3 linked regions of the Homo sapiens genome follow. The protein of the gene in region 3 purifies or fractionates together with the protein of the main gene of each other region. This does not show direct contact. Each region holds a gene or a part of one and is shown on either strand. Other genes may lie near its edges.

Evidence for each region.
Region 1: the proteins of FRS2 (region 3) and FGFR2 purify together in Homo sapiens (affinity purification with western blotting; 2 studies listed by BioGRID). This does not show direct contact.
Region 2: the proteins of FRS2 (region 3) and SOS1 purify together in Homo sapiens (affinity purification with western blotting; 5 studies listed by BioGRID). This does not show direct contact.

Annotation. Positions count from the first base shown.
Region 1 is NC_000010.11:121,595,434-121,603,447, reverse strand, and holds the start of FGFR2 (fibroblast growth factor receptor 2 isoform 1 precursor), read left to right. Parts: upstream 1-5,003; 5' UTR 5,004-5,486; intron 5,487-6,802; exon of another isoform or gene 6,803-6,971; intron 6,972-8,014. UniProt on the Homo sapiens protein: Tyrosine-protein kinase that acts as a cell-surface receptor for fibroblast growth factors and plays an essential role in the regulation of cell proliferation, differentiation, migration and apoptosis, and in the regulation of embryonic development.
Region 2 is NC_000002.12:39,020,041-39,027,064, reverse strand, and holds part of SOS1 (son of sevenless homolog 1), read left to right. Parts: intron 1-2,927; coding exon 2,928-3,055; intron 3,056-3,839; coding exon 3,840-4,495; intron 4,496-7,024.
Region 3 is NC_000012.12:69,564,373-69,571,396, reverse strand, and holds part of FRS2 (fibroblast growth factor receptor substrate 2), read right to left. Parts: exon of another isoform or gene 4,757-7,024; intron 2,393-4,756; 5' UTR 2,367-2,392; coding exon 2,301-2,366; intron 1,067-2,300; coding exon 880-1,066; intron 122-879; coding exon 1-121. UniProt on the Homo sapiens protein: Adapter protein that links activated FGR and NGF receptors to downstream signaling pathways.

The sequences.
Region 1 (8,014 bases), on a different chromosome or scaffold from region 3:
GTATGGATAGTAATCCTCAAGAGACTTGCTCGTGTGTCAAAGTTTCTCCAAACCATGAGGACCACCTGAATAAAAATGTCTAAGCGAGGCTGGGCATGGTGGCTCACGCCTGTAATCTCAGTGCTTTGGGAGGCTAAGGAGGGAGGATCACTTGAGGCCAGGAGTTTGAGACCAGCCTGGGCAACATAATGAGACCCCTGTCTCTACAAAAAATACAAAAATTAGCTGGGCATGGTGGTGCATGCCTATAGTCCCAGCTACTCAGGAGGCTGAGGTGGGAAGCTTGCGTGAGCTCAGGAGTTGGAGGCTGCAGTGAGCTGTGATTGTGCCACTGCCCTCCAGTCTGGGTGACAGAGAAAGATCCTGTCTCAAAAAACCGAACCAAACCAAAACAAAAACAATTAAGTGCCGGGTGCGGTGGCTCACGCCTGTAATCCCAGCACTTTGGGAGGCAGGTGGATCACTTGGTGAAATGCCATCTCTACTAAAAATATAAAAAAATTAGCCGGGCGTGGTGGCAGGCGCTTGTAGTCCCAGCTACTTGGGAGGCTGAGGCAGGAGAATCACTTGAACCCAGGAGGCAGAGGTTGTAGTGAGCCAAGATCACGCTACTGCACTCTGGATGACAGAGCAAGACTCCATCTCAAAAAAAACCAAAAAACAAAAACAAAAACAAAGGCAAAAACAAAACAACCAAAAAAACCCGAACAAATAAAAAAACAAAAACAAAGAAAAACTAAGTGCTTGTCACGTCCTAACTCATTTCATCCTCTTAGTGATCCTATTAAAGATCTAGGAGAGGCCGGGTGCGGTGGCTCACGCCTGTAATCCCAGCACTTTGGGAGGCCGAGGCGGGTGGATCACGAGGTCAGCAGTTCAAGACCAGCTTGGCCAAGATGGTGAAACCCCATCTCTACTAAAAATACAAAAAATTAGCTGGGCGCGGTGGCAGGCACCTGTAGTCCCAGCTACTCAGGAGGCTGAGGAAGGAGAATCATTTGAACCCTGAGGGTGGAGGCTGCAGTGAGCCGAGATCGTGCCACTGCATTCCAGCCTGGGTGACAGAGTGAAACTCTGTCTCAAAAAAAAAAAAGAAAAAAAAAATCCAGGAAATAAGAACCATTATTTTCCCCATTTTACAGCTGAGAAAATGGAAAACTCAGATAACTCAAGCAACTGGCCTGAGGTAACACAGCGTTTGTTTGTTTGTTTGTTTGTTTTTTTTGAGACGGAGTTTCTCTCTTGTTACCCAGGCGGGAGTGCAATGGCACGATCTCGGCTCACCGCAACCTCTGCCTCCTAGGTTCAAGTGATTCTCCCGGCTCAGCCTCCTGAGTAGCTGAGATTACAGGCATGTACGACCATGCCCAGCTAATTTTGTATTTTTAGTAGAGACGGGGTTTCTCCATGTTGGTCAGGCTGGTCTTGAACTCCTGACCTCAGGTGATCCACTTGCCTCGGCCTCCCAAAGTGCTGGGATTACAGGTGTGAGCCACCATGCCAGGCCTTTTTTTGTTGTTTTTTGAGAGGGAATCTTGCTCTGTCACCCAGGCTGGAGTGCAGTGGGGCGATCTCAGCTCACTGCAACCTCAGCCTCCTGGGTTCAAGCGATTCACATGCCTTAGCTTCCAGAGTATGTGGGATTACAGGCATGCGCCACCACAAGCGGCCAATTTTTGTGTTTTTAGTGGAGACGGCATTTCACCATGTTGGTCAGCCTGGTCTCGACTTCCTGCCTTCAAGTGATCCGCCTGCCTCGGCCTCCCAAAGTGCTGGAATTACAGGCGTGAGCCACTGCGCCCGGCCACAGGTCACAAAGCTATTGAGTAAAGAAAGCTGCATCCAGCCTCTCACCTTAAGAAAGCCATTCCCCTTTGCCTCAAAGTGAGGCTATACTTCCAGAAGGACTTTGTCTCCGGGGAAGCCTTGGCTTTGGAATTCAGGCCCAGTTCTAAGTTTAAAATCATTGATGCTGTTCAGTAGTGGGATCAATGATTTTGCTTCACTTAAATGCCACAAGCTCCCTGAAGATGGGCTGGAGCTGTCACAGCATCCAGCCCCTCCCCTTACCCAGAAGTAAATACTCTTATCATAGTCCTCCGACTATTCTATATCCTTCCATTTGAGTGCTTCTTTTATGCCGAGGGCACTATTGAGATGTAGCTTAGAGAATGAAATTCCTGGTGTTGCAGGGAGCTCAGATCCACCCGGGAAGGTTCATGAGCACTTCATGTCAGCAGCCTTTATTTCATCTAACGTTTCCATAGAGTGAAGGAACAGCCACCCATTACAAAACAAATTATTAAAAGAAAAATTCCAAATCTTCAAAGGAGAGAGGCCCATGGTAGTGAGCGCTCCCACCCCCTTCTCCTTTCTCTTCCCATCACCAACGGGCTAGCAGCACAATTTGTTTCTTGAAACTTTTGGGGGCATCGGAGTTCTGGTGTCCTCATTTTTCTTCCTTCCCATTGATGTATCATTACTAGAGTGAAAAAAGAAGGGCGTCTCGAGGGCTTTTGAAAAAAAAAAAGGGTGACTACTCAAGACATTTTGTAAAGGGGGGAAAATTGCGAAGAAAAGAGACCTCAGTAGGGGGTGGAGGAACTGTGAATGTGTCCTTGTCTGGCGGTTCTTTCAGCTGAAACCTGGTGCTGGCGTTCGCAGTTCAGTTCAAACTGTCACCTTTAGTTCTTACTGGCTTTTCTGCCCTTGCCCCAGAACCTCAACAGATTGGGGCTTATTTACCTATTCACACTCCGCCGTGGAAGCTCATTAATAGGCTTTATTAGCAACACCATTCATGGGAGGCCATTGACGAAAGGGGTTCCAGCCACTTGAAGAGGGAAGAGAAAAGAAAAAACTGTAAAGAGATTATTTTCTCATTCAGAAGCCTCAGTGGTGTGAAGGTTTTCCTGGATGGTCTGAGGTCACTTGAAGACTAAATATGGGGACATAATTGATTTTTTAAAAATAATTCTAAACATACTTCCCCCCCCTCCTCAAAACTGAAGAGTTTCCTGTTGTGGTCTTGTGGGTTTCAGTCCCTTATATATGAGCCCTCTTTAGGGAATAAGGAGCTTTTGATAGATTGGTGTCTTTTCATTTCTATAAAAAATACATTCTGCAAACTGTGCCTGGACATGAAAGTAGGTGTTCTTATTTGTCATTTTCAGCGGAAAGCTTCCTTTCCATTCAACATGCATAAAGCTATTGATGAATGGGGGATAGGGACAGCGGCTTCCTGCACCATTAATTTATGTGAGAATGTGTTAACAGCATTTTCAATGGCTGATGGATGCGGTGTAGGATGGGAAAGGAACTGTCCTGAGACACTCGAGTTTCCCATTGGTGGGGAATATAAAGATGTAAGTGGCAACCTGCGAGCAGGCAGACACGTTCAGCTGCATCCCTTTTCTGAGAACTTGAAAACATACTGCTATCAGAACAACCCGTGTGGGAGTGAATGGCTAAGTGTCAACCTGGGCTGAGGTGTCCGTTAATGTATAGGCTCTGGGGCTAATCCAGGTTAGAGGACTTGACCAAAAACATACCCTCCCACCAAGCATATAGAGGGATAATTTTGCTTAAGAACCAGTTTTTATTTTGTTGCTATCAAATTTCCAAAATACAATGTTATAGCCTTTTGCCTGAGGCAGTTAAATGGATTTCTTACTTGTGTGGCTTTTAAATAACTTGCATAAACGTTTTCTGTGCTATATTTGTGAATAAAAATGATTTTCTAATCATGTAGCACCTTGAAAAATATTTTTGTAAATGTTATGAAGGGTGCAATGTTAGTGACACAGGTGCAAATATGTTTCTAAATCCAGGAAAAGTCTGTTTTCCAAGTCAGGTTTGTTCTCAATGCTTCATCTATCTTCAGGCCTCAAAAGGATTCTAAAGCATTTCTGGGTTTAGTGACCTTTTCTAAAGAAAAATAATTAAGGTTTTAATCTATATGGTCTTGAACTTAAGCACGGCTGCTCAGGAGCTGGATGAATAAGGAGGGAGAAAAAGCATATTTAAAATAAATTATTCCGAAGACACGGCTTAGTGAAAAGGTAAATGGACATAGGAACTTTAACCAGTTACAGCTTGGTGTGCAGTTGAAGAATCAGATTTTGCATTTATGATTTTTAATCTAAGATTCAGAGGGAGGAATTACTTTGTTCAAGGTCTATTTATGGTAGAGTTGTCTTTAGACTCCTTTGAATTTCTTTTTATTAATCCAAACATATATTATTAAACACTTTTTTTTTTTGATGCAATTTTGGCTTTTTCTGAGAGAGCCACATTCAAAGTCAGGCTGTCCTAGTAGCCAGCTGTGTGGTCCTAGGCAAATTACTTAACCTCTCTGATCCTGTTTCCTTATCAGAAACTGGGAATAGTACTCTGCAGGGTGGTTGGGCAGATGAAATAGAATCACCTATGTAGTGTGACCCTCCCATAGTAGGGCCTCCATTAATATTCAGTTTTTTCCTCTCATTTCTATTGTTTAGAAGGACAGAAACATGCAATGTCCTGCGAACATTTCCAAGTGGCTTCCTCTCCTCCAAAAGCTTCAGCTGCCTGGCAACCCTCCCCGCAGTATCAAGCAGGCGCATTTTAAAGTCTCTTTAGCGGGAGGGCAGGGTTAGAGCCTTCGGTCATTTGTTTTCTAACTTGACATAAAACAACGTAACGCAGTCGCTCAGCGAGCCGTTGGCCAGCCTCGCTCGCCCGGGGAGGAGGGAGGAGGTGGCGCGGGGCGCGGGACCAGGCCTTATTCGGAGGCTGTCGCTGCATCCCTACGGCCGCATCGCGGCCGAGCCCTCGCCTCCCGGGCCGGTGTCTCCGGCTGCTCGGAGGCGTCGGGAGCCGCGCGGGACTCGGGGCGGCCCGGGCGCGCGGCGCTGATTGGCAGAGAGGGCGCCGCCGTCCAGGAAACGGCTCGGGTTTCAGTGGGGGCGTGACCCGCCGCGAGGAGGCGGGGGCGGCGGCGGCGGCGCGGGCGGCGGCTGGAGGAGAGCGCGGTGGAGAGCCGAGCGGGCGGGCGGCGGGTGCGGAGCGGGCGAGGGAGCGCGCGCGGCCGCCACAAAGCTCGGGCGCCGCGGGGCTGCATGCGGCGTACCTGGCCCGGCGCGGCGACTGCTCTCCGGGCTGGCGGGGGCCGGCCGCGAGCCCCGGGGGCCCCGAGGCCGCAGCTTGCCTGCGCGCTCTGAGCCTTCGCAACTCGCGAGCAAAGTTTGGTGGAGGCAACGCCAAGCCTGAGTCCTTTCTTCCTCTCGTTCCCCAAATCCGAGGGCAGCCCGCGGGCGTCATGCCCGCGCTCCTCCGCAGCCTGGGGTACGCGTGAAGCCCGGGAGGCTTGGCGCCGGCGAAGACCCAAGGACCACTCTTCTGCGTTTGGAGTTGCTCCCCGCAACCCCGGGCTCGTCGCTTTCTCCATCCCGACCCACGCGGGGCGCGGGGACAACACAGGTCGCGGAGGAGCGTTGCCATTCAAGGTAATCGCCGCGCAAGACGCCTCGGGGAGCTTCGCCAGCCGGGGACGTGGGCGCCACGGGAGCCCGGGACGCCGGGTGCACCGTCCTCCGGGCGGGGGGCGCGGAAGGACTAGCATTGTGGAGGACGCTCCGTGTCCTCCCTCTGTGGCTGCATAGGTGATGGGGGAGGTGGGTGCGTGCTGACGGCCGGCGTTCTGGAAGTTCTGCCTCTGCTACCCCCATCCAGATGCTGACATCTGCTTCTGGCGTTGACGCCCCCCTCCCTGTCAAACCCTGGCGGGCGCATTCCCGCTGACTGGGCGCGTTTCTCCGACCCCAGAGCAGACGGGCGGAAGGTTCGCCTGCCCGTGGCACAGCCCCGCAGGCCGGTTCCCGGGGTCATCTCCGAGGTGCCCCATCCGTGTGTCCTGGGAACTTCCGTACCATCCAGGCCCTGCGGAGACCCCTTTTTCGGGAGGGGGCCGCTGGGGTGGGGCCGGTGACATCCCGTAGGGGTGGCGATGGCCAGGGGTGGCACTGCTGGGGAGGCGACGGCTCCGGTGCCTGGGCGCCCCTCGCCCGCAGCCGCCGTCGGCGCTGGAGGGAGCGCAGTGCGCCTGGGGCTAGGGGGCGAACTGGACCGACTTTTTCTAGTTCGCCTGCCTGCTCTGCCGCAGCGGCTGGGAGATGTCGAAAGCGCAGGCGAGTTCTAACTTGCGCGCTCATTTTTTTCGGCCACGGGGCCGCGCTGGGGAAAAAAGCCGAGGGCCCTGCGTGGCGCTGGCTCCGACCCTCGCGGACCACGGACCTGGCGCAGGAGGCCCGCTCGGGGACCACCAGCCTCCGTCGCTCTCCTCGCACCCCGCTCCCTTGCAGACCGTTCTCCAGACCCTCCTTCCTTTCTCCCAATTCAATAAAACCTACCCTTAAAGGCAAACCTGCTTTCAAACTCAGGGCACCCATTATGTGTTTGGTGTGAAACGCTATCAACATTTAAAACTCCATTGTCTCCCTGGTCCCAAATCCCTGTAAATCTTCCACCGGGCTCGACTCATTTTCATCTGAAAAGCCTGTTTAGTTTGAATAGAAAAGCAATCAGGCGCCCCTCTCTCTTTCCCTGGAATGTCAATTAAAATGCAGATTTCTCTGAGCTCTTTAGCGCCCCGAGAAGGGGGAGAAAAACAGGATATTTCAGGCAAACAAATGAAAGAAGTGCTGCCCTGAAAGGGGGTGGTGGTGGGGAGCACCCCCAAGCTGCTCGCAAGTTCTGATTGGACGCAAGCATTAAACCGGGAGGGCTTTGTGGTCCTGGGTCAGTGTGTGTTTTTTGAGATTTCAATTTGTTGAGGAATTTCCCCCTAGCCTTGACCCCTTGACAGCTCCCGCTCCTACTCAGTGCTGGGGAGAAGTAGGGAGGCCTTAAGCGAAGAGATGGGTCTGCACTTTGGAGGAGCCGGACACTGTTGACTTTCCTGATGTGAAATCTACCCAGGAACAAAACACCAGGTGATCCCAGTGGCCGAGCCAGCAGTGGACAGATCACCCCTTAGGTGGAAGCCCAAAGCGGAGGGCACTGTATTGGTCTGCCTTCTTGGAGGGCGGGGGTTTTGGGAATGTCATGGTAAATTGAAGAGCCCAGCACAGGCCTGGCATGGGGACCGCTCCGCAGCCAAGCCCTTCCTGCTTGTCACTCTGCCTGTCTTTGGGGGCAGGCTTGTGCCGAGGTGAAAATGGACCGGGGGGCGGGCGGCCGAGAAGAGCCATCCATCAGAGGGAGGGTGACAACTCCTCCCGCGTGCAGGCTGAGAAGAGAGTTCCCTTTCAAGGGGAAAAATAAACACGCTGGGGCTTTCACTGGGGCTCAGACTCCAGGAAGGATTATGGTATTGAAGGCAGGAAGCCGGGATTGTGGCCGCCAGCGGCATGCTGGGCCTGTATTCCCAACACCGAGCCTGGGGACCTAATTATCCTGCCTAGGAGGTCGCACCATACTTTTGTCCACTGGTGTGAGGAACTGTGCAGACCTGTCGCCTTAGGTCTCCGCCTTCCAGAGTTTTGGGGAGGGGGCTGCCGTGGGGTTTGGACCTGGAAATGGCTGAAATGCAAATTTCTAGTGCCAGCTAGCGGGATGATGGAACGGCTTGAGATTCAGCGGAGCGCCCTGTCCACCTTTCTCTGCCTGGAGCCAAGGAGGCTCCTCTGGGCAGGGACAGGTGGGCGAGCAGGCCGGGGAAGGAGCCTGGGGTGAAACCTCTGCGAGGACTTAGGATTGTTCCTGAAGTCGTGTTAGAGGTAGAAAATTCCCCTGCATTCTGCAAATGCTTAGTAAATCAATGAGAATGTTTGTGTACTTTCCTCCCACATGTATGTAGAAATAGATCCGAAATTATCTTCTGAGGCTCTTGACTAAGAGGAAAGAAAAGTTAAGAGGAAAAATCTTTCAAGCTATCTGAAAGCACATGCACACACCGTGCACGCACACACCATGTACACACACACACCGTGCATACACACACACCATGCACGCACACACACCGTGTACACACACA
Region 2 (7,024 bases), on a different chromosome or scaffold from region 3:
TGTATCTTACTGACTTGAATTTCTCTGGGCTTTGCTTTTGAGTGATTAAATTCTCAATCAACTCAGTGAACTAATTCATCGTTCAGTGGTGCTTTCATTAAATTTGCCTTAAGGTATACAGCAAGCTTGTCTAACCCCCGGCCCAACACAAATTTGTAAACTTTCTTAAAACATTATGAGATTTTTTTGCAATTTTTAAAAAGCTCATCAGCTCTCGTTAGTGTTAGTATATTTTATGTGTGGCCCAAGATAATAATTCTTCCAGTTTGGCCCAGGGAAGCCAAAATATTGGATACCCCTGGTATATAGCTTTCAATGTTAGATTATCTGCTGCTTTAAAGACTAAACTTGATAATGTTTAATGGTAACATTTTATTTGTCTCCCAGAATTCTGCCATGTGAGAGGCAAATAGTTTCAAATGATAGGGATGGAAGGTACTTTGAGAGATTACCTGGATTCCAGCCTTCAGCCTACTAGTAATATCTGTTAAGTAAAAACCTAGTATCTTTCTTTATGAACCCTGGCCATTGGCTTTCTTTAATCTAGCTGGCCATATTGAAGAACAATATTATGAATAAAAGATATTTGATTTTTGTATTAATATGTACACTTTTAAAGTCTCTTATCCTTTGGAAAATATCTTTCGTTACCCTTTTTATGTTGAGAATTGTTAGGAATAAATTTTTCTGTTTTTTTTTTTTTTTTTTTTGAGACGGAGTCTCACTCTGTTGCCCAGGCTGGAGTGCAGTGGCACGATCACGGCTCACTGCAACCTCTGACCCCTGAGTTCAGGCGATTCTTCTGCCTCAGCCTCCCGAGTAGCTGGGACTACAGGCGTGTGCCACCACACCCAGCTAATTTTTGTATTTTTAGTAGAGACGGGGTTTTACCATATTGGCCAGGCTGGTCTCAAACTCCTGACCTCGTGATCCCCCCGCCTCAGCCTCCCAAAGTGCTGGGATTACAGGCATGAACCACCGTGCCCAGCCTAAATTTTTCTTTTACTTAACACAGTTAAGACTGAAAATTTTCCTAAAAATGTAGATTATGCCTCTAGTAGAAAGTATGGTGAGTTTTTAATAATGAATATAAGAAATCTGGATAATAAAAGCTAAGTATTAAACATTACAATATGGTATTCATTACTTCTAGAATATTTGACCATTAAAGTATTTTAAGTAAATTTTAATAAAAATGGTTTAGAATATAAGTAAGAAATCTGTTTACTTTTCACAGGTCATCAGTGCATGTGGTATGTGCATGCGCATGCATGTAACTGATTTTTATCAATTGAAGCAGAAAGGAATGTGTTGTTGACCTTTAAGGAATACCTGTGAAAAACACAAAATCCTTAAAGTACTAATGTACTAATGAATACTTAAGCTAATTGAAAAGTAAACTTCTAGCCAGGCATGGTGGCTTACGCCTGTAATCCCAGCACTTTGGGAGGCCGAAGCAGGCAGATCACTTGAGGTCAGGAGTTTGAGACCAGCCTGGCTAACATGGTGAAAACTTGTCTCTACTAGAAGTAAAAAAAAAAAAAAAAATCAGTCAGGTGTGGTGACAGACACCCGTAATCGCAGCTACTCGGGAGGCTGAGGCAGGAGAACTACTTGAAGCTGGGAGGCAGAGGTTGCAGTGAGCTGAGATTGCACCGCTGCACCCTAGCCTGGGGTACAGAGCAAGACTCCATCTAAAAAAAAAAAAGAAAAATAAACTTCTTTATAAATCACTTTGAATATTTCATGATTGTGTATCTCAAGTCTTTTCATTCATGGTAGAGAGTAGGTATTCCTAAATTGTTGGATGAAAACTCTATTGATAAAATGTTATTTTATTTTATTTTAATAGACGGTATCTCAAACTCGTAGGCTTAAGCGATCCTCCCACCTGGGCCTCCCAAAGTGCTGAGATTATAGGCATAGGCCATTGCAGCCAGCCAATATGTGATTTCTTAACTTTTCCTTTTGGTAACCAGGAACAGGTTTAAGATGTATGAGTGAATTATTGTGACTCATACATCTGTTAAGTGCTTGCTTGAATCATAGCCACCTTACTGTATTGACAATTAGTTACTGATGACTTAGTTCTTGTTAAGTAGAGACGTTCTGTCTGACACAGATATTTGCCAGTAATAGAAAATATGCTTGAGTTTCAGTTTCATAAATATGTATATTATAGCTTCACTCAAAATCTTAATGTGGATATGGACAAAGTTCTTTATTATACTAATGTTAATTCTGTAGTATAATTACAAAGAAAACCATTTACACTTACATTGTGTGTTACCATTTACAAAGTGCTTTGGTTTTTAATAACAACCCCTAAAAGTAGGCAGGGTAGGCTTTTTATAAGCCTTATTTGGCAAATGGGAAAAGTAAGACTCAGAGATCAAGTGACTTGCCCCAAGGTCACACAGAAGTAGAGTCAAAATTTGATCCTAGATTTTGTAATTGAGATTCCTTCTACTATATTGCATCGTTCTCTGTATATTTATCTTCCTTATCATCTCAATATTATATAACAATAATATAGGGGTCAGAAACCTAAGACCAAATTCCACACTTAAAAAAAAAAAAACCTCGTCTACATGCTTAGTGGTATGCTAACTCTATGATAATTCAGTAGATCGATTATGCTCCCCATTTCTTTTCAGTGGTATGCACCTTGAAAAACTACATATTACTGCCTGTCACAAGATATAACCCATCTTAACACTGCTAATCTTGGTCTTTTAATGTAGAAAACTTGGTTGTGTATTAATAGTAACACACAAGAAAAACACTTTTAAAAAGAATATTTGATGACACATTTAAAATTTTTATTGTGACAGTTGAATAAATGTTATTTTTATCCTTAAATGAGTTTATTATTATTTTATCCAAAAATGTACTACTGGTTCAGATTTGTCATTTTGGCTTTACAGCAGTTAGAAGAAAAAAGTGAAGATCAAGAAGACAAGGAATGTTTAAAACAAGCAATAACAGCTTTGCTTAATGTTCAGAGTGGTATGGAAAAAATATGTTCTAAAAGTCTTGCAAAACGAAGACTGAGGTGAATATTTTTACTTTTTAAAATATCCTTTTTTCCCTGAATATTGTGGTGTAAATTCAGGGATCCCAGTTCCCTCCTCAAGTAAACAATGAAGAAAATAGTTTTAGTGACAAGCCTGGTCTTTTAGAGGAAGTGACATCAAAGCCAAGAGAATTGTTATTGTTTGAAAAACCTTTCATATTTGTGCATTTTCCTTGCATACTCCCAGACAAGACCTCCTGAGAGTCAACTGGTAAGCTGAAGGAGAGACAGAGTAAAATGTATCGGGTAGATTTATGTTGGCATCGTTATTCTGTCAAAGTAAAATTATTAGTGTCCTTTATTTTAGGGATTATATAACTTGAGGCATTAATTCAGATAACATTGCTTCCACTTTCCTGATTATAATATGTGCTACATGTTTTTAGCTTTGGGTCTTGTCCATTTAAACTCTTCTAAATAATTTATTTTAATCTTTCAGATTACTTTTTTTTACTGTATTGGGCTACTTTTTATTAGTTGTCATTCTAAATATTTAGTAGCCAAGATAGAAATAATCATTTTGTAGTTACATTTAAGGAGAATTTTGTCAGCAATCATTGTGCTTTTTAGAACACTGAAAAAAATTTCTAGGTTGCTTTAATTTTCAAAATTGTGTAATTTTGTAATTCTAATCTATTTGGGGAATTAGTGAATACCTTCTCAGTGAGACTTGTAAAAATCTACTTTTACACTTTCCCTTACTTACATGAGCTCTAGGTTTTCTGTCATCTATGTACTAATAATGTCTTTTTCTTTATTCCAGTGAATCTGCATGTCGGTTTTATAGTCAGCAAATGAAGGGGAAACAACTAGCAATCAAGAAGATGAACGAGATTCAGAAGAATATTGATGGTTGGGAGGGAAAAGACATTGGACAGTGTTGTAATGAATTTATAATGGAAGGAACTCTTACACGTGTAGGAGCCAAACATGAGAGACACATATTTCTCTTTGATGGCTTAATGATTTGCTGTAAATCAAATCATGGGCAGCCAAGACTTCCTGGTGCTAGCAATGCAGAATATCGTCTTAAAGAAAAGTTTTTTATGCGAAAGGTACAAATTAATGATAAAGATGACACCAATGAATACAAGCATGCTTTTGAAATAATTTTAAAAGATGAAAATAGTGTTATATTTTCTGCCAAGTCAGCTGAAGAGAAAAACAATTGGATGGCAGCATTGATATCTTTACAGTACCGGAGTACACTGGAAAGGATGCTTGATGTAACAATGCTACAGGAAGAGAAAGAGGAGCAGATGAGGCTGCCTAGTGCTGATGTTTATAGATTTGCAGAGCCTGACTCTGAAGAGAATATTATATTTGAAGAGAACATGCAGCCCAAGGCTGGAATTCCAATTATCAAAGCAGGAACTGTTATTAAACTTATAGAGAGGCTTACGTACCATATGTACGCAGGTAAGAATTATGCAGTTGCCTGTCACTTTTGTTTTCCTGCTTCAAACTGATTTTCTTTCCTGCATGGGTTTATTGTGCCTAAAATAGAAAAGAAACTAACAACCAAAGACCTCTTTTCTTTGACTAAAAATACCCCACTTTATATTTCTTTGGAATGTTTTACTTTTTCTACTACACTTAAATACTTTTTTTTAACCTTACCATCAGTTATAGATGAGAAAATGAGGTCACTTGGCTAAATTTATCCAGTTAGAAAGTGACAGAAACAAGACTAAAGTTAGTAGTAAATCATCATTATTGGGATCTAAAAAGTTTTTTACTCCTTTATCTTTTTTTTCTTTCTTCTTTTTCCATTTCTGAGATTATAAATAAAAATTTTAATATAACAAAATTGTGCTGGTAGTACAAATATACACGGCATTGCTTTCTCTCAGTTTCCACTCCTAAACCTGATTATTTAATAATAAATGTTGCAATCCTGGAAGCCAAGGATTCCAGTTTTATTATAATTTTTCACCTAGAAATGTCTATAGTCAGTGTATTTATTTTACTGACCCAAAAATTTAAAAAATCATAGGAAATGTAAATAGGCTGCCTAGATTTTACATGAAAAACAAATAGGTTATTGTCATTTTTTTCCATATAAAGCTGTTTTTTGAGAGGTACAATTTTTCGGTAGTATGACCTGCCGATTTAGTTGTGCTTCACCAACCTTTTCTATGTTCTTTATGATCTAGACTACAACTATAAAAATGTTTTTTATTCAGTTACCCAAAATTTGTGATTGCAAAATACTTCTTTTCTGCTTAAGAGATTTTTAAGGCTATAAAAGTTCAAATTGCCCTTCTTGCCACATTTTCCTGGTTTTTAAGTCCCCTTAGAGGACTCATAGAATTTTTATAACATGAGCATTCTAAACTTTATCATTTCATCCTAAGTACTTTTGTTTGGGGTTCCTAGACTCATTTGGAGTAAAATTAATCTTTAGATTTTTCTCTGTGTTTGTAAGAAAGAAGTTTTAATTTTTTTTTTTTTTTTTTTTTTCCTGTAGAGCATTGTAAGAAGACTTACTACTAGTGTTTACTGTCACAAGTCAGTGATACTTGGGCAGGAAAACATTTTCAAATTACAAAATTTTTAATTGTTTCTGTAAGACTTGATTGAGTGATAGAAGTTTTCTCTAAATTGCTATATTTCACAAAGTTAATTTATGATTATTAATAAGCAGCTGAAGAATGGTTACAACTATTGTCTGGGGAACTGTCCCTTTTATTTATTTTTTTAAATGAGGACACTTTAAAGCAAAATTAACTGGAACAAGCTGATACTTGTTTTGTAGTCCTGAAAGTCTTCTTTCCTTAATGTGTACAATGTTAGGTAAAGTCCGTGGACATGGTACTTTTGTAATGATGTTTTATTAGTTATTTCTGTCTGATACTTCTTTTCTATATCAATTTTTAGCTTTGGTATAGAGTAATATTTTGAGTGCTTTTACTTATAATGAATATAAAACACTTAAATTTCAAGATTTATAGAACTTTGCCAAAGTTAAGTGTATTGAAAATTTAAGTTGATGAGATTATTTTACTTAAAAAAAATGTTTTTAAAAAATTCCTTCCAATAATTTTTTGAGAAATAAAAGGCCAGTGTTGTGGCTAAGTTTTTTGATATTTTTCTTTTCTGTCTTCTTTTGAAGCTTAACTGAATATTTTAATTTATGTCATAAATATATTACTGGTGAAACTGGAGTCTACAAGCAGCTTTCGTGAGTTGTGGTTTACAGTACACACACATTAGTGTTAACTGTTAGCTTATTTGGGCTATTCTGTAAGGTCTGTTACTGAAGTTATTACTGGCAACATAGAATGGTTTTTAATAGACCATCTGTGAACTTGTAAAACTGAAATGGACTTTTAAGGCCTCACTACAATGGTAACAGATCAAGTTACCATTTGTTTTTAAGAACTACTGGTCTGCTCTTCTCCTCTCATCTTTCTTCAGCCTCCCCAAAGAGAAAAGGGATTTGTGATTTGGTTAGTAGGTATGTTTATTGGAGAACATGCAGTACAGGTTGTGGCTTACACTGAAACAAAGCTAACATTTAACTTACACATTTTTATTTTATTATATAGAATTGTAATAAAAGACATTGGATATAATACATGAGAAAATTTAATGAATACTATAAGACACGACTTACAGACATCTTTTAGATTATTATAGTTTGGTTAGACATTGTCATAAAAACAGAAGAGAAACTGGTTTAACCTTACTTTATTCAGACTTCACTGTGGTGTCAGCCAACTTTATCCCTCAAATATTTTAACAGTAATGTACAAAATGGAGCTATAGATCTCTAATGCTAGAAGAGATGCCCAAGCCTTCACTTTGTAGACAAATCCCAAGGCCCCTGAAGATTATATGATTTCCCAGAAGTTCTATTACGAGTTAATTCCAGAACAAGTCAAGAATTAGGTTTCTTGACTCTAAATAGAGTATATTTTCTACCATGTTACATTGACTCATATA
Region 3 (7,024 bases):
GTCTGATGATTATTTCTTTCTACAACTGGCTCTTCCACCACATTTATACTATTATTTTGCATAATCTCTTGCAACATGTTAAATAATTCTTCTGCACGGGCACACTTAAAGGCAAAGATTCCTACAAATATAAACCAAAAGGGAAAAATAGTTAACATACCTTTAAAAAAAACTATAGGAACACTTGACAAACAGCAGAATTGTAAAGTAAGCATTCTACGCACCGAGTCAGAAATCCCTTTTAAATAAATATCTGATAAATTAATGATTATTCTCTGTTTCAAAACAAACCCCCGCCAAAAGTTCACAGAATAATTTTCATTCATCTAAGGGAGATGGCCCAAAATAAAGCTAATGAAATCAAGACCTGCGCACTTACGCTAGTCTGTTTCTTAACAGCAGGGGGAGCCCAACTCACTATTCCAAGGTGATCATTTGCCATGTAACAGGCCCCTTGGAAAGTCCCTAGGTGTTTTCCAATTGTTATCTTGTTTAATTATTACAATAATTAAAAGATAGGTATTACCATTTCCCTTTTATAGAGAAGAAATTTAACATTCAATGGAAGTCCTGTAACTTGTCAAGGCCATTCAAGTAGTAGGTAGTAAAAAAATCAATGATAAAGACACTTAGTCAATTTAGCTGACCCAATCATTTACTGAAAAATCTTAAAGTTGACATGAGCCAAAATTTCTCACATAGACAATGTGCTTAATAAACAGTTGATAAATTAATACACAGTATACTATATCTTTCCTTAACAATCTGTTTATTTTGGGATTTTTTTCAGAAGAAAAATATTAATTTAATCTTTGTATACAGAATAGCTGAAAAAACAATTTCAAATACAATATTTGGGAAAAAAAACAAAGGTTCTACCTTGTCCAGTTTGACACCTTCGACCACTTTCAAAAGAAAAGAGATTCGAGTCATAGCCATAGCGTCGCAGGCAGAGGTAGTGCCATTTTACTGAGTCACGTTTGCGGGTGTATAAAATCAGTTCTGTGTCTGTAAGTTCCATTATGCCAGAACCTAACTCATTCCCATCATCATCCACATTAATGACCTAAAAAAAGAAGGTGACAGTCATGCAAATATGTCACCAATTCGTCAGGAAAATGCATTGTTGCTAATTAGTTATTTGTAATTTGTTAGTTCATTCATCAACCAATGTGTGTATCAGGCATGGACTACGTAGCCGTGTAACACCCAGTTCAGATCTGTAAGAAATTTACATTCCCACTGGGGAAACAAAATGTAGAAACACAAAGTCAATACCACAAAAGTGTATGATTAATTGACAAAGGAATGCAACAGAGGCTGCAGAAGGCAGGAAGTGTGGTCTAAGGTTGTTGAGACACCTTCATTTAAGAGGAGGAGGGCCTTTAGCTGGACCGCTAGTATAAATAAATTTACGCAGAAAATAAAATCAGAGGGGAAATCTAGTGGGTCAGGAGATAAAGGGACATCATAAAGACACAATGTTAAAGCAGAACAAAAAAAGTACCTTTCAAAGACACCAAAATAGATTGGCACAGAGTTCATATGAGGAAAGGCTTTGTACTGCTGAGCTTCAGAAAACATCCAAAGACTAAGAGCAGTAGGTAACATTTAGGGAGAAGTTACTATTCCCCTGGGAGTAGGAAAAGAGCTTTACATGTATTTAACCCTCATAACAATCCTAGACTACACTGTACAAAAATGGAATTAAGACTCAGTAATAACGTAACCTGCCCAAGGTCACAAAGCTTATAAAGTGACAGACTTACACCTAGGTTTGTGTGATCAAGGCTATTCTTTGTAACAGATCGAGGTCAAATTATCAGACACAAAACAGCTATAGCAGCATTTAGCCTACAGGTAAAATAACACCACACAATTTTAGCAAAGAGGTTAGTGAATGATGAGAGAAGAAGATTAATTTGATGGTGACTACAGGATGAATCAGAGGGTGACTTGAGGTAGAGTCCAGTTAAGAAATCACACAGGCACACATGAAAATAATAACTGAAAGACAGATAGTGATGAGATTGAAAAGGCACCCCGTAAAATGGCATTTTAAAAACAGTATTACCAGAACGGTATGGCTAATTAGATACAGAGGACCGAAGGAAAACTAAAAAAAATTCCATACTGTAAGAAAATGTTGTCATCATTTATTAAATCAAGAAAGACAGGGTGGAAAGAAAGGGAAATAGAAAGGTTTGGTGATAAAAGCCAGAAATAAGATATGTTAAGTGAAATAAAAGAAGAACACCCAACTAGGCAGTAAGATATATAACTCAACCAGTTTTACTGACCTTAAACTTGTTCCGATGGTTATCTGGGACAGTGTCTTTATCTGGACAGCTACAACAGCTACCCATGGCTTCTTCAGAAGACCATGTGTGCACTACATGAAAAATAATTTGGAAAAATTTATTAGATGAAGGATACAAAAACTGTAAACAGAAAAAGACTTTAGAAATCATCTAACACAAACATTATTCTGATGCAGAAAATTAAGTCCAACAAGGTATATGGCTGCAGCTAGATTTTATACAACTAGCTAGTTGATTTTACTCAGTAATAATGAGAATAAATTTTGTGAGGCATTAATAATGTCAAACAAATCTCAAATTTCTAGTTAAATTTGCAAAGGTCACCTATTCTAAAATCATCTAAAAAAAAAACCAACTTAAGGTCTCATATATAATATTACCTAAATAATTAATTTTTGTTCAAGAGTTAATAATGAAATTAACCCTTTGTGGCTTATCAGGAATTTCATGTCCTTCTTTAAAGAGAGAGAGAGAGACAGAGAGGGACAGAGAGAGAGAGACAGAGAGAGAGAGAGAGAGACAGCCAGAGACACAGAGACAGGCAGGCAGGCAGGCAGGCAGGCAGACATTATGTTGCCCAAGGCTGGGCTCAAACTCCTGGGCTCAAGTGATCCTCCTGCCTCAGCCTCCTGAGTAGCTGGGACTACAGGACTACCAGACCTGGCTTGTTCTTTAAATAAAAAATCACCAAAGGGATGGTGAACTTCTGGCTTGGCAGGTATTTTGACTGTTGTTACTCATTGTAGTATCTTTTATGTCTCCACAAGACAAGAGTTCATTGGTAATTAAAACAAAATCAAATTTCGAATAGCGCATTGGTAAGAGAGAAAGACAACTCAAAATTAAGCAGTAAAGTAACACACAGAATACTGGCAAAACTGATATAGCATGTCTATTTAATACTCCTTTCCCATAGAAGGTTAGAGGTAAGTGGTTATATACCTGACATTGAGTGTTTAAGAACACTCCAACTGAGCAGACAAAGAAAACTCCAAAGCATCACTTACAAACAAGGGAAATAATCAGATAGAATATGACAATATATGAAAAAGGAGGAGGGAAGGAAGCACAGAAGCTACAAAACATTACAAACATAAATTTGATTGAAGCTTGTTGAAAATTATTCAGTGGCTCTCCACTATCTTCAGTTTAACAGTATAAACTCTTCAGTATGATAGATCCGATCAGATACAATGTAATCCCTGTCTAACAGATCCAGTCTAGACTCTCCCTGCTTTCTGTTTCAAGCCCTATTCTTAGTCCTGTCAGAATAAACAAGCTGCAGTTTCCCCAGAGCATCCTGGTCTCTCACATCCTTCCAAGCTGCTCCCTTTCTGCTTCTTTCCTTTCTCAAGATTCAACTCAAAGTGCAGTTCCTCTAGGATGCTTTCCCTGACTCCAAGCAACTAGGCAAGTTATACTATTATGTATGACCGTCATGCATATGCTAACCCAAAGCACCCTGGGCTTCCTAGTATCATAGCATCTATCACACTTTGTACTGAGTAGAAATTGTGGCAGGTATCTGTTTATCTGTCTTTTCTCCTCCATTGTGAGCCCCTTGTCAGCAAGGATGAACCTTACTCATTTTTACATTCCTAGTACCTAACACGATACCTAGCATACAGAAGGTGCTATAGGACCTGTGATTTAAATGGACTGTATTAAACAAATGTGAAGGATCCCTAGCAGGTATAAGTATTAAGAAAATGAAAAAGTGTACTAGCGTATAAACCAAGAGTGTATATGATAACATATAATAGTAAAGTTAATTAAGACTCATGATATTTGGTATTTTTGCTTTAACTAATATGCCAGCTAAGTATCATAGTACAAGGACACATAAGTCACCATCTTTGTCTTTGAAGAGCTGTGAGTATCAAGGGGGAGAGAGAGAAAGAGAGAGAGAGAGATGTAAATAGATAATGCACTGCGATAAACCTTATATTAGGATATGAGCAGAGTACTGTGGGCACATGAAAGGGAACAACTAACTTTCTGGGTTAGGCAGGACAGGAAGCACTAATTGAGCTGGGATTTAAAAGAAGAGCAGAAACAACATGCTAAGCAAAATAAAGAGAAATAAGCACCTGAGACAGACAAAAGTCATGAAGTGTCACACCACATTCAGGAGAAAGTGAGGCGTTCAGTATGACTGGACTACAGGGTAGACTGGAAGACAAATGGGGCCCAACCATAAAGCAGCCTGAACAAGCTAGGGACATGTTCCCTAGATTTGAGACTTGATCTTCCAGTTAACTCGAAGATAGCCTGCCTCTAGTGTTCCCACAATAGAATGGCATAACTCTATTGTGGCCTTTATCGTACTCTACTGCAATGTTTATCTTTCTGCACCATCCACTTTGCTGTGATCTCTTTAAAGACAGGAAATCTTGTCTTGTTCATTTTCCAGGGCACTAAGCATACCAACTTACATGGCACATATTCTTTTTTTTTTTAAATCCCCCAAGACGGAATTTCGCTCTTGTTGCTCAGGCTGGAGTGCTATGGCGTGATCTCGGCTCACTGCAATATCCGCCCCCCAGGTTCAAGAGATTCTCCTGCCTCAGACATGGCACATATTCTATAAACATTTAATTTTTTAAAAAATAGTAAATGTTTAATATTAATAAATTATAGGATGAGTAATATAAGAAATTTTAAGTAAAGGGATAATTGATAGAGACATTTTTTAAAAGTCTTCTTGAAAGTACATATTTGTTCTCCCCGACCTCCTTGTGAAATATGAAGAGCTAAAAGATTACTACAGTATGGCTTTTGCTTCAAAAGATGATGCTCCAAAGGAATGTTTTTAAACTTTTTTTTTTCTCAAAAGGAGCAGGAAAATCATCCTTCCACTTGGCATCTTCATAAGCTACCTGTTAAGGTAGAACCTCTCGTGCTGGCAGGGATATACAGTCATGAGCCACATAACAAATGTTTGGTTGGCAACAGACTACATATATGACAGTGGTTCCCTGAGATTACAAGGGAGCTGAAAAATTCCTGTCAGCTACTGACACTATAGCTATCACAGCATCACAGTGCAACACATTATTCATGTGTTTGAGATAATGCTGGTATAAAAAAAAACCTACTGCACTGCCAGTGTATAAAACTATAGCACATTCAATTATGTATAGTACGTAATACTTGATAATGATAAATGACTATGTAATTGGTTTATGTATTTACTATACTATGTATCTTACTATTATATCAGAGTATACTCCTTCTACTTATTAAAAAAAAAATTAACTGTAAAACAGCCTCAGGCAAGTCCTTCAGGAGGTATTCCAGAAGAAGGTGCAGTTTTCCTAGATGACAGCTCCATGTTATTGCCCCTGAAGACTTTCCAGTGGGACAACATGTAGGAGGAGAAGACCGTGATATGGATGATTTTCACCCTGTATAGGCCCATGCTAATGTGTGTGTTTGTGTCTTTGTCTTAGTTTTTAACAGAAGTTTTAAAGGTTAAAAAAAAATTAAAAATTTTAAAAACAGAAAAAAATCTTAAAGGATATAAAAAAATACTTCTGTACTGCTGTAGAATGTGTGTGTTTTAAGCTAAATATTATAAGAGAGTCAAAAAGTTTCAAAAAATTAAAAGGTTATAAAGTAAAAAAGTTATAGTAAGCTAATTTATTACTGAAGAAAAAATTATTTAAACAAACAGCGTAGCCTAAGAGTACAGTTTTATAAAGCCTACAGTAGTGTACGATAACATTCTAGGCCTTCACATTCACTCACCACCCACTAACCAACTCACCCAAGAGCAACTTCCAGTTCTGTAACCTCCATCCACGGCAAGTGCCTTATACAAGTGTACCATTTTTTCTCTTTTATAGTTTTCTTACTGTACCTTTTCTATGTTTAGAAATGCAGATACTTACCATTGTGTTACAACTGCCTATAGTATTCAGTACAGTGATGTTGCTCAGATTTGTTGAGTAGGAGCTATAGGCTATACCATATATCCTAGGTGTATAGTAGGCTATACCATTTAGGTTTGTGTAAGTACACTCTATGACGTTTGCGCAGTGACGAAACTGTCTAATGACACATTTCTCAGAAGGAATCTCCACCATTAAGTGATATATGAGTGGCAGTGCAACCTACTTGGGGACTCTATCCACACTGAATGTTTGAGTTCAATACAACAATAATTAATGAAATGCCTAATATGTGATATGAAAGCCTTGTATGCCATGCCAAAGAGAAAGGAATTTATCCTACACATGATGGAAAACCACTGATGTATTTTAAGTAGAAAAGTGAGACGGTCAGAAGTGCATTTTAAATAAACATATGTATGATAAATTTAAGTAGGAGTTTAGCTCAGAGGAAAGAAAATCAGTTTGAGATTATTAAAAAATGAAATATGATAAAAACCTAAAACAAGAGCAGCAATGGTAGGAATGAAGAAGAAAAGAATAAATTTAAGGAACATTTAAGAGGAAAAGTCAGTGGCACCAAAGAACTGACTTGACATAATGGAAAACAGAGGCAGTTTCCAGCATGGCAGACAAAGGGTGCCAGGGGTCTATTACCTGAGATACAAAAAACTGTAGTCTTCAAGAGGAAGTGATAATGATTTGTTCAGATATGTTAAACTGAGAGCCCAGGGAAATGTCCAAGTGCAATAGTTAAGTACATAAGTATGTGTTTGAGGGAGAAGGTAAAACATTAGAACACATGTCACA